Linked DNA regions of Homo sapiens. The protein of the gene in region 2 purifies or fractionates together with the protein of the main gene of each other region. This does not show direct contact. Each region holds a gene or a part of one and is shown on either strand. Other genes may lie near its edges.

What was found. Proteins that work in one complex are often made in the same cells at the same time.
Region 1: the proteins of RBM43 (region 2) and ARHGAP8 purify together in Homo sapiens (affinity purification with mass spectrometry; one large-scale study listed by BioGRID and IntAct). This does not show direct contact.
Region 3: the proteins of RBM43 (region 2) and PARP9 purify together in Homo sapiens (affinity purification with mass spectrometry; one large-scale study listed by BioGRID and IntAct). This does not show direct contact.

The regions. Positions count from the first base shown.
Region 1 is NC_000022.11:44,759,075-44,762,574, forward strand, and holds part of ARHGAP8 (rho GTPase-activating protein 8), read left to right. Parts: intron 1-3,500.
Region 2 is NC_000002.12:151,246,603-151,250,651, reverse strand, and holds the end of RBM43 (RNA-binding protein 43), read left to right. Parts: 3' UTR 1-2,712; downstream 2,713-4,049.
Region 3 is NC_000003.12:122,547,301-122,550,800, forward strand, and holds part of PARP9 (protein mono-ADP-ribosyltransferase PARP9), read right to left. Parts: coding exon 3,284-3,500; intron 1-3,283.

The DNA of each region.
Region 1 (3,500 bases), on a different chromosome or scaffold from region 2:
GGTGGATGGTGGGGTGACCCTGGAGTGTGGGTGGAACCAGGCCACGCTGGGCCTTGGATCCCGGGGTCTGTCCCAAGCCCTCTGCTTGTTCTTTTATTCAACAGACCTCCCAAGTCCCTGCTCGTGTCCCCAGCCCCGGGTTGGCTGAGTGCAGAGACTCAGACGTGAGTCAGACATGGCCCTGCTGTCAGGGCACACACAGTGATGGGTCAAGAAGAGCATACAGGTACATGGTGCAGACTGATGAGGGCTGTGATGGACCTGGGGGCTGCCAGAGCCCACAGGAAGCCCCTCTCCCAATCTGGGGTAGGCAGGGCACCTGGAGCATCAGGACGCTTTTGGCTGTAATTAACAGAAAACACAACTCTGAACCGGCCCAAAGTCAAGGGGGGTGCATTAGCCCATGTAGCTGCAAAGGTCTGGGGATAGTATGGAGATCAGGTGTGGCTTGATCAGGGGTTAGCTATTCCCTTCATTCTCTGTGGGCTGCTGGGTCTGCAGAGGGGCGGCAAGTTGGCTGCAGCCCTCCGGGTCTCATCTGCATACCCAGCTGCGCAGAGACTCTCACAGTGGTTCTGTCTTGAGAAACAGGATCTTCTGTCTCAGAAGTATCCTGGAGCCTCAGGGGCCTGAAGGGAGATGGTCAGGGAGATTGTCAGGGAGATTGCCTCGTGCTGATTAGCTCTGGCTTGGGTTTCTGAATTAACCTTTGAAAAGGGAGATATGATTACTCTTAGCCTAACTGGGCGGGCCCTGGGAGGCGGGACAGCCTCACCTCTTGCAGCTGGAGGGTGTGCAGGTGAGAGTTGCGCACCCGAATGATCACCTGGGTGCCCTTGCGCAGGGCAGCAGAGATGCTTGGTGTTCCCTAAAGGCTGTGTGAGGAGCCCTGAGTCTTGACCCACAGGAGAGGGGGTGACCCCAGCAGCCCTTTAGAGACCCCCTTGCCCTTTCAGGGTGCTGAAGGTTTCCTGCGGTTTGTGGGCAGGCCTCTGACAAGGTCCTGATGCAGGTCACAGTCAGCTTGTTTGGACTTCGCTGCCGCCACCTTCGGGGGTCTCATGTATCTGCTACCTGGACAAATGGCCTTGCGCATGCCGTCTTGCCAGCGTTGGGGACCCAGTGGTGGTTGTGATGAAGACTGGGTAGTGAGGGTCTGTATTAACGAATTCATGCATAGCTGAGACAAAAGAGTGGAAGTTACTTTTTATGGGATGCCACTGGGGGACCCTGGAATCCCAGCTCAGTAGTGACCCCCATTCAGCCATGAGCAAGATCTCCTGCCCCCATCATTCCTGGACTTTCCCAGGAGTCGCTGGCCAGTGTCTGCCTCAGGTATGACTGTGTGCAAGCTTCTTTGTCTCTGGGTCTTGGAAGCTTAGGCCTGGGTGGCATCAAACTCATTGCCTCCTTCTCCCAAGAGCCCTTTATCAGAACACCCAGTTCCAAAACGAGAGCCTGCATTGTGCAAATACCACAGCGAGCTCTTCCTCTGTATGCCCTGCACATCGGACTTGCCACTCAAATTAAGTTTGGTGCTAATTTGCCCGAGGTAAGTAGGTGTTAATTTGTAGCTACAGCATTAAGATAATTGCTGTGAGGGTCTATTTGTGTAATGTGCAAATATATTTTTACAGCAACAAACCATTTTGCTATGAATTATAAATAGAACAGTTGGGTGATTTGAATTTTCCTTTGCATAACATCCACTCTGCCAGCATGCCTGTTCGGGTCCATGTCTAATGAGGGGCTGCAGCTGGCCCAGCCCCACAGATGCTGATGGTGCCTCTGTGTCCTTGTCCCCGACCCTGGGGGGGATCCGAGAGAAAGGGCTTGTCAGGGAGGGTCGGGAGGGAGTTGAGGCATGTGCGGACTCACATGCAGGGCGAGGCAGGCTTTGGGGGATGGAGCTTCTGCTCTGAAGCCCACTGGCCAGGAGAAAGGGCCCACTTGTAATGTCTGGTTTATTTTCACTTCATTTTGATGATTACGAAGGACCTGCATGTACCAGGCCCTGTACTAGGCACCACGGATACTGTTTGAGCAAATCCAGGCATGGGCTTGGTCCTCGTGAAACTTTGATCTGCTAAGGGAGGCCCATGTTAACATTAGCAAAAGGATCACGGAAATAAGTGCCATCAGCCCTCCGTATTGGTGGCCTCTGTATTCGTGGGCTCTGCATCCGTGGCCTCTGTAACCGTGGACTCTGTATCCATGGGCTCCATATTATGGGTTCCTCATCTGTGGATTCAACCAACCGCGGATTTAGTGTATTGGGAAAAGAAAATAAATGGTTGTGTGTACTGAATTTATACAGACTTTTCTCCTTATTCCCTAAACAACACAATGTAAGAACTATTTACAGGCATTTACATTGTGTTAAGTGTTACAGGTAATCTAGAGATGATTTAAAGCATACAGAAGGATATGCATAAGTTATATGCAAATACTACACCATATTTCAGCAGGGGCTTGAGCATCTGTGGATTTTGGTATCTGCCAGGAGTCCTGGAATGAATTCCCCAAGGGACGTCTGTAAACTTGCACCTGGTTGAGAGCTATGAGTAATGGATACAGGGAGCTAAGAGTATATGGAGAGGGGCCTGCCATGCTCCTGTTTGGAAAGAGAGAATATGTTAGTCAATTTTTACGCTGCTGATAAAGACACACCCGAGACTGGGTAATTTATAAAGGAAAGAGGTTTAATTGACTTACAGTTCCATGTGGCTGGGGAGGCTTCACAATCATGGTGGAAGTGAAGGAAGAGCAAAGGAACATCTTACATGGTGGCCAGCAAAGACAGAGTGAGAACCAAGCAAAAGGGGTTTCCCCTTATAAAACCATCAGATCTCATGAGACTTATTCACTACCATGAGAACAGTGTGGGGGAACCCCCCCCAACTCATAATTCAGTTACCTCCCACCAGGTCCCTCCCATAATGTGAGAATTATGGGAGCTACAATTCAAGATGAGATTTGGGTGGGAACACAGCCAAACCATATCAGAGAATTGTCTTAACAGAGATCAGAAGGACAGACAGGAGCTGACCTGCAGGTGGGGGCTGTGGTATAATGAATCTTAGCTGAGCACAGTGGTTTGTGCCTGTGATCCCAGTGAGCCGGAAGGCTGAGATGGGAGGATCACTTGAGGCCAGGAGTTTGAGACCAGTTTGGGCAATATAGTGAGACCCAGTCTCTACAAAATACATGAAAAAGCCAGGTACAGTGGTGTGCACCTGTAGTCTCAGCTACTCGGGAGGCTGAGGTGGGAGGATCGCTTGAGCCCAGGAGTTCAAGGCTGTAGTGAGCTATGATCATACCACTGTACTCCAACCTGGGCAACAGCATGAGACCCCATCTCTAAAACAAAAAAAAATCTTTGTTAGGTCTTTGTCCCTGGTTCCTGGCAGAGCTCCTAAAACCCTTGGAAGAGCATCTTTTGTTACTCATTATGAACTCTCTCTCTCTCTTTTTTTTTTTTTTTTTTGAGATGGAGTCTC
Region 2 (4,049 bases):
CTAAGGAATAAAACTTTGAAAAAAACTCACCAAACTTTTTTTTTTTTTTTTTTGAGATGGAGTCTCGCTCTGTTGTCCAGGCTGGAGTGCAGTGGCGTGATCTCGGCTCACTGCAACGTCCACCTCCTGGGTTCACACCATTCTCCTGCCTCAACCTCTGGAGTAGCTGGGACTACAGGTGCCCACCACCACGCCCGGCTAATCTTTTTGTATTTTTTTAGTAGAGATGGGGTTTCACCGTGTTAGTCAGGATGGTCTCCATCTCCTGACCTTGTGATCCACCCGCCTCGGCCTCCCAAAGTGCTGGGATTACAGGCGTGAGCCACTGCGCCCAGCAAACTCACCAAACTTTGAAGGAATCTTACTTTCTCTGTAACTCCAAATTATTAGAGAATAATAATTATTAAGAAGTAGCCTTAACATATGAGAAATTTGAAAGGTGATTATTATGCCATGGGCAATTTCTTAACATTTACAGTTTGTGTTTACTCCGTGTAGAATTAGAATACTGGCAAAAATCACTGGGGAAACTACTTAGATGGAAAGCATATCTTATGCAGGTAATCATTATTTGACTAAATTCTATTGTTTCAAGGCTGCTGGCCACATAGGATGTTTTTACTATTTTTTTAGCCTAAGTGCTTACATAAAATGGTGATTCTTTTATAATTGTGCAAGTTGATAATATTAATTGAGTCATTCTTGTCACATCCAACTAAAACAGACTCAAGAAGCTAGGGGGAAAAAGTACTTGGGACACATAATATTGCTCCAAGAATGTAATTCTCTGTGAGCCTGGCTACTGAAACTGCTTGCTGTAACCTGAGACCAGTTTTGTCTATAGCTGCTGAGATAACTTGCTGTAACTCTAGGACTAATTTTACCTATGGCCATTGCCCACCAGTTGGAGCTTGCCAGCTCCCCAGGGCTTTACTAATACCAATGAACTTTCTCTTAAGATCACAAGTTGGCCGGGCGTGGTGACTCATACCTGTAATCCCAGCACTTTGGGAGGCCGAGGCGGGTGGATCACAAGGTCAGGAGATTGAGACCATCCTGGCTAACATGGTAAAACCCCATCTCTACTAAAAATACAAAAATTAGCCGGGCATGGTGGTGGGCGCCTGTAGTCCCACCTACTCGGGAGGCTAGAGGCTGAGGCAGGAGAATGGCGTGAACCCGGGAGGTGGAGCTTGCAGTGAGCCAAGACTGCACTACTGCACTCCAGCCTGGGTGACAGAGCGAGACTCCGTCTCAAAAAAAAAAAAAAAAAAAAAAGAAAGACCACAAGTAACATTCTTAGTTTTAAATAAAACCCTCAACCTTCTCTTTGTTTGTTGGACATACTAAAGATCACCTAGAATTGAAATTCTTTCTTCTCAAAACATTAAATTTAGTTTTGTGTCTACATTTTCATTTTGACTTTGACATGCATGGTGTCAGAAGTGGGATACAAAGCTGACTCACCTCATGGAGAATCATTGGCCTTTGGAGTTATGGCATGAGGTACCCATGTTGGGGCCCTTTGAACCCCCTACACCCCCACCACTTTCACAGGTAATCCTTTCTCCCTCCAGTAAGTATCTCTTGGACAGAACTCTCAGATATGGTTCGAGTTCTGTTTTATTTGGGATATGATTAGGGAGAGGTCTTTCCCCCTCTTGTTTGGTAGATCTGTTGGGTAGAATTATTTTCCCCCTGTTGACCTCAGCTGCGAGGTTTGGACCTTGAGGCTTGGATGAGGGAATTTTTCCCTTTCTTTGGAGAAGGCTTATCATTCTTACTGGTAAGCATGTATTTTATTTTCTGTCCTGTCTTGTATTTATTTGGCCTTTGTGTATTCAGTGCTTGCATTTACTTGGCTTTTGCATAGTTGACATTAAATCAGAGCACCCACGAAATGAGCTCTCAAAGTTCAAAGGCATGCCAGAATATTTTCTGGAACTCCAGCTAGTAACATATTCAAACATTACAGGGATCATTTAGTCTGTTTTTCTTAAAACTGAACTAAAAGATGGAGGCTATAAAATCATACACTCCAAATAAGATATGCATATTTCATTGATATCTTGAGGCTAAAAAAAAATAAAAACAAAAACAAAACACATTCAGGATACAAATATTGCCTTGTTAAAAAATACTGTCTCAAAGGTGGCTGAAACTTTCTTTTCTAGACCTTTCCCCTCCCCTTCTTACAGTATCCCCTCTTTATCCTTCTCTAAACAGCTATTCTAACATACTACTTAAATAAAAACACTTGAAAACCAGCAGATATAAAACAAAGTCATTTTGACCTTCCTACTGTTTTTTTTTTAAAGCAAAGATTAAATTCCCATGTAAAACCTTCCTCCCTATACAAAAAAGAATAGCAGCATTTTTATCTTCAATGACAAAGAATTGAGTCCAAGAAAATACTGTATAAACCTTGTTAAAAATCACTCTTGTCTTTTGGTCCTACTCACATAATTCAGCACACTTTCACAGTTAACTATTTTTTGTTCAATTTAGTGCACTGGTGAGTGACTCAAACTGCTTTATCCCAAATTTGATTTACAGCCTTTATAAGATTGCCTATTAAAAAAGCTTAAAGCTTATCCTTAGCCCATTTTGTCAGAAAAATAATTTGCATCTAATCATTTTTATAAACTGGTGAATTTACGTGTTTTACTATATCATGACTAAAATTCTAAAATAAAAGTTTTAATATCTTTATGTATATGTGTTTAAATGTGTTTATGTGTATGTACATATATTATGTTGAATGTTGTATCTACATAAAAGCTGGTGTAGTCAGCCAGAAATCCCTTAACAAATTTTATTCTGATTGGTTTAAATAAATGAGCACTCATATAAAATGTATAGTAATTAACCCCCAGTTTTTTTTAGTTGATGTGACTTAAGTAAATCTTTGATAAATTAATTGGTTTTAAAATTGTGGATAAAATAAAATTAGAAATGTCTTCAAAATTGTCAGCAGACATTTTTGTCTGGGTTTACTGGTCAGACAGTTTTATATTTGCCTCTGCTAGATGTTTTAAAGTCATAAAGCCTAAAACAAAATGATCTTTGTTTATATAGTTTTTAAATAAATATGATTATATTGTTGTTTTAATAAAAATAGCTGTAACTTTTCTGAGTTAGCAACAGGGTGGCTGTTTTTAACTTTAAGGTTCTTACTTAAACCTTAATATCAAGATAAATACTTCATGGTAACAGTCTATAAAACTGATTAATAAAAACAATGACTAGTTCTATCTCAATTTTCATAAATCTAGGAATAATTGAGAAATAAATCTTATAAATGAAATAAACATTTATAAATGAGCTTTTCATGTAATTTTAAAATCTTAAAATTATGTTAAATGATACTCATTAAATGTCTGGATCATATCCAAATTAAAAAAAAATTGCTAAATACATAGACATTTGTTCTTGGCTTCTTAGGTTTTATAAAAGGACTAAAAGTATTTCGGTCTATTAATCAAAATATAAATTTAGGAAAATACAATTGATGTATTAAAAATTATATGGTAAATTTTTATCCTAAGATAAAATAATTGGTTGTTAAAAATTTTATTTTTTATTTTTATTTTTTGAGACCGAGTTTTGCTCTTATTGCCCAGGCTAGAGTGCAATGGTGCAGTTCCAGCTCACTGCAACCTCTGCCTCTTGGGTTCAAGTAATTCTCCTGCCTCAGCCTCCCAAGTAGCTGGGATTACAGGCACCTGCCACCACACCAGGCTAATACATTTTTTTTTTTTTTTTTGAGACGGGGTCTCACTCTGTCACCCAGGCTGGAGTACAATGGCGCGATCTTGGCTCACTGCAACCTCTGCCTCCCGGGTTCCAGCGATTCTCCTACCTCAGTCTCCCTAGTAGCTGGGATTACAGGCATGCACCACCATGCCTGGCTAATTGTTGTACTTTTAGTAGAGGGGGGTTTCACCATGCTGGCCAGGCAGGTCTCGAACTCCTGACCTCAGGTGATCCACCCACCTTGGCCTCCCATCTTCCTGGAACTTTTTGAAACAGCAAGAACTCAAGGTGCA
Region 3 (3,500 bases), on a different chromosome or scaffold from region 2:
GCCAGACTGGTCTCGAATTCCTGACCTCAGGTGATCCGCCCAGCTCAGCCTCCCAAAGGGCTGGGATTACAGGCATGAGCCACCAAGCCCGGCCCCCTACGGCACTATTTTTATTATTAGTCCCTGGGGGAGCGCTCAGACCGTGGTTGATCTTTCCATTTTTCTTAAACTGTCATGCATATTTTTGTTTGTATGTTGGAGAGAATGAACCTTCTTTTCTAGATGTGGTTAATTCCTCTTGTATGAAAATGGTGCTTCATAAAGTTCAGGGGCTGGGCACGGTGGCTCACGTCTGTAATCCCAGAATTTTGGGAGGCTGAGGTGGGAGGATTACTTGAGTCCAGGAGTTTGAGATTGGCCTGGGCAACATAGTGAGACCCCACTTCCACAAAAAATAAAAGTATTAGCCAGGCATGGTGGCGCATGCCTGTAGGTCTAACTACTCAGGAGGCTGAGATGGGAGGATTGCTTGAGCCTGGGAGGCTGAGGCTTCAGGGAGTTATGATCACACCACTGCACTCCAGCCGAGGCAGCAGAGCGACATCCTGTCTCAAAAAAAAGGAAATTAAAAAAAGAAATAGTTCAGGGAGGTGATCAGGGCACCTATCTGGGCTTAGAGATAATCCTCTGCATGGGAAACTGATGAACTTCATCTGAAGGACAGGATTATTCATTTTATCAGAAGGTGAGCTACTTCCTTGGGTCATGCACCACCATCTCACCAGTTAGCTGTGGGTGAGGCGCAGTGGGATACTGGAGCTGGCATACAATGACTCAAGACAGCTTGCTGTGACCATCTCTTCTAAATCTGTTTTCAGTGATGTCATATCAACAGCTTGAAAGCAGCCACAGAAATCAGCAAATGCTACAAATCTCCCCGTGTTTAATTGGGCAGCAGAAGGAATAAGAACTTTTATACTTGCTCCAAGAAAGAGCAAGCTGGAACAAGTATAAATTCACTTCCATATAGGCAGAGATAAAATGGCAACCATGCACATAGAGCAGGCCAAGAGGTGGGAATATGAGCAGTCAGAGAACTAATGTTTGCAGCCACTCTCTGCAAGGCAAACCTTGCAAGGCCCTCTATATCCAAAATCCAGACACATGCCGAGAAGTCTCTCTAAAACTCGGATGTTGCTGTTGGCAGAATCAGAAACCTATATCTTGAAAACCTATTTTAGGTTGCTGTATCTTATTTCCTTTCCTTTTTATTCTTCCCTAACATCATTAAAGTCTTTCTCGAAAATGCCAGCTAAGTGAGAATAAAGCAGAGATGGTCGGTACTTTAAAGGCAGAACAGCACTGCAATATATACTAATTATGCTGAAAATATCACAGTTTATTCACATGCTAGGAACTCAGCTTGATCTGTCCACCCAAACAAAAAGCTGAGATGAAGTGCACTCAGACACATAAGACAAGCTCCCCTCCAACACATGGACCCCAAATGTGTTAGACCACAGCTGATTTCCTTCCGAGGTCACCTACAGATGAGCTAAAAAAGAATGGGTTGAATTTGAGGGCAGTACTGGAGACATGGCAAAACTAGCCAGGCATACCACTGCTGTTAAAGAAATTGGAAAGAAAAGATAAACAATTCACTGAATTTAGTAACAATTCAGCACTCAGTGAACTACAGCTCATTACAGTTGATGTAACAGCTAACCTTCTACTCTGTGCTAGGTACTATTCTAAGTGTTTTACAGGTATTAACTCATTTTTTTTTTTTTTGAGATGGAGTTTCACTCTTGTTGCCCAAGCCCGGGTGCAATGGTGCGATCTCAGCTCACTCCAACCTCCGCCTCCTGGGTTCAAGCAATTCTCCTGCCTCAGCCTCCCGAGTAGCTGGGATTACAGGTGTGTGCCACCACGCCTGGCTAATTTTTTGTATTTTTAGTAGAAACGGGATTTCATCATGTTAGCTACACTGGTCTCAAACTCGTGACCTCAGATGATCCGCCTGCCTCAGCCTCCCAAAGTGCTGGGATTACAGGCGTGAGCCACCTCACCCACCTGTATTAACTCATTTCATCTTCACAACAGCTCCATAAGATGGTAATCAGTATCCCTCTTTTAAGGATGAGGAAACTGAGGCACAGATAAGTAAACTAACTTGCCCAAGGTTATATAGCCAGCGAGAGGCAAAGCTGAGACTGATGGGGATTTTAGAGGGAAAACTGATTGAGGAGGAGAAGACAGGCCAGGCATATTGGCTCACACCTATTATCCCAGAGCTTTGGGAGGCTGAGATGGGAAGATCACTTGAGCCCAGGAGCTCAAGACCAGATTGGGCAACATAGTAAGACTGCTTTTCTACAAAAAATTTAAAAATTAGCCAGGCATGGTAGCATGTGCCTGTAGTGCCTGCTACTCAAGAGGCTGGAGTGGGAGGATCACTTGAGCCCAGGAGTTCAAGACTGCAGTGAGCTATGATTGTGCCACTGCACTCCAGCCTGAGCAACAGAGCAAGATCACATCTGTTTAAAAAAAAAAAGAGAGAGAGAGAGAAGACAAAGAATTTGCCTTAAATACACTGGATTTGAGATGACGGTCAGAGATCCAAGTGGAAATGAGAGAGGATTGGCTAAGAAGACAGGACTTCACAGAAGTTGTAAGAACAGTTGTGTTCTTGAAGGGAGAGAGATGAGAGAGGGGCAAGGACCCCACACTGAAACTAGAAGGTTGCTTACCTTTAAGGAGCAGAGGGAAGAATAAGTGCCATTAAAAGAAAAGACAGAAGCTAGGTAGTGGGTAAACATGGCTTCTTTGTTTTTTGTTTTGTTTTGTTTTGTTTTTGAGATGGAGTTTCACTCTTGTTGCTCAGGCTGGAGTACAATGGCGTGATCTCGGCTCACCACAATCTCCGCCTCCCAGGTTCAAGCTATTCTCTTGCCTCAGCCTCCCTAGTAGCTGGGATTAAAGGCATGTGCCACCACGCCCAGCTAATTTTGTATTTTTAGTAGAGACAGGGTTTCTCCATGTTGGTCAGGTTGGTCTAGAACTCCCGACCTCAGGTGATCCGCCTGCCTCCGCCTCCCAGAGTGCTGGGATTACAGGTGTGAGCCACCGTGTCTTGCCAAACATGGCTTCTATAATGACATGTTTTACTAGGTCAGAGGTGGACAATCTGTAAAAATTAAACTTCACCAAGTTAGAACACCACCACACTGTACAGCACCTAGCCCTGCATCCCCTGCATCTTACATTGTAGATACTAAACAGATGTTGCTGAATGAATGAATGAATGAATGAACAGTAGGACATTTCTAAGATATTAACTTACCTTATATATCTCCAAATCTGTTGGAAAGATCACAAATTTTACAGTTAACTGGTGTTTTACATGGTCTTTGGCAAATGTTAAAACTTCATCAAACAAAATCTCTGCTGCTGTTTCCTTCTTTATTTCCATGTTTCCAGTCCCAAGGGCAGGAAAGGAAATGGAAGTTATATTTTGCTCAATGCATTTTTCCAAACACTCCTTCATTGCATGTTTTAAT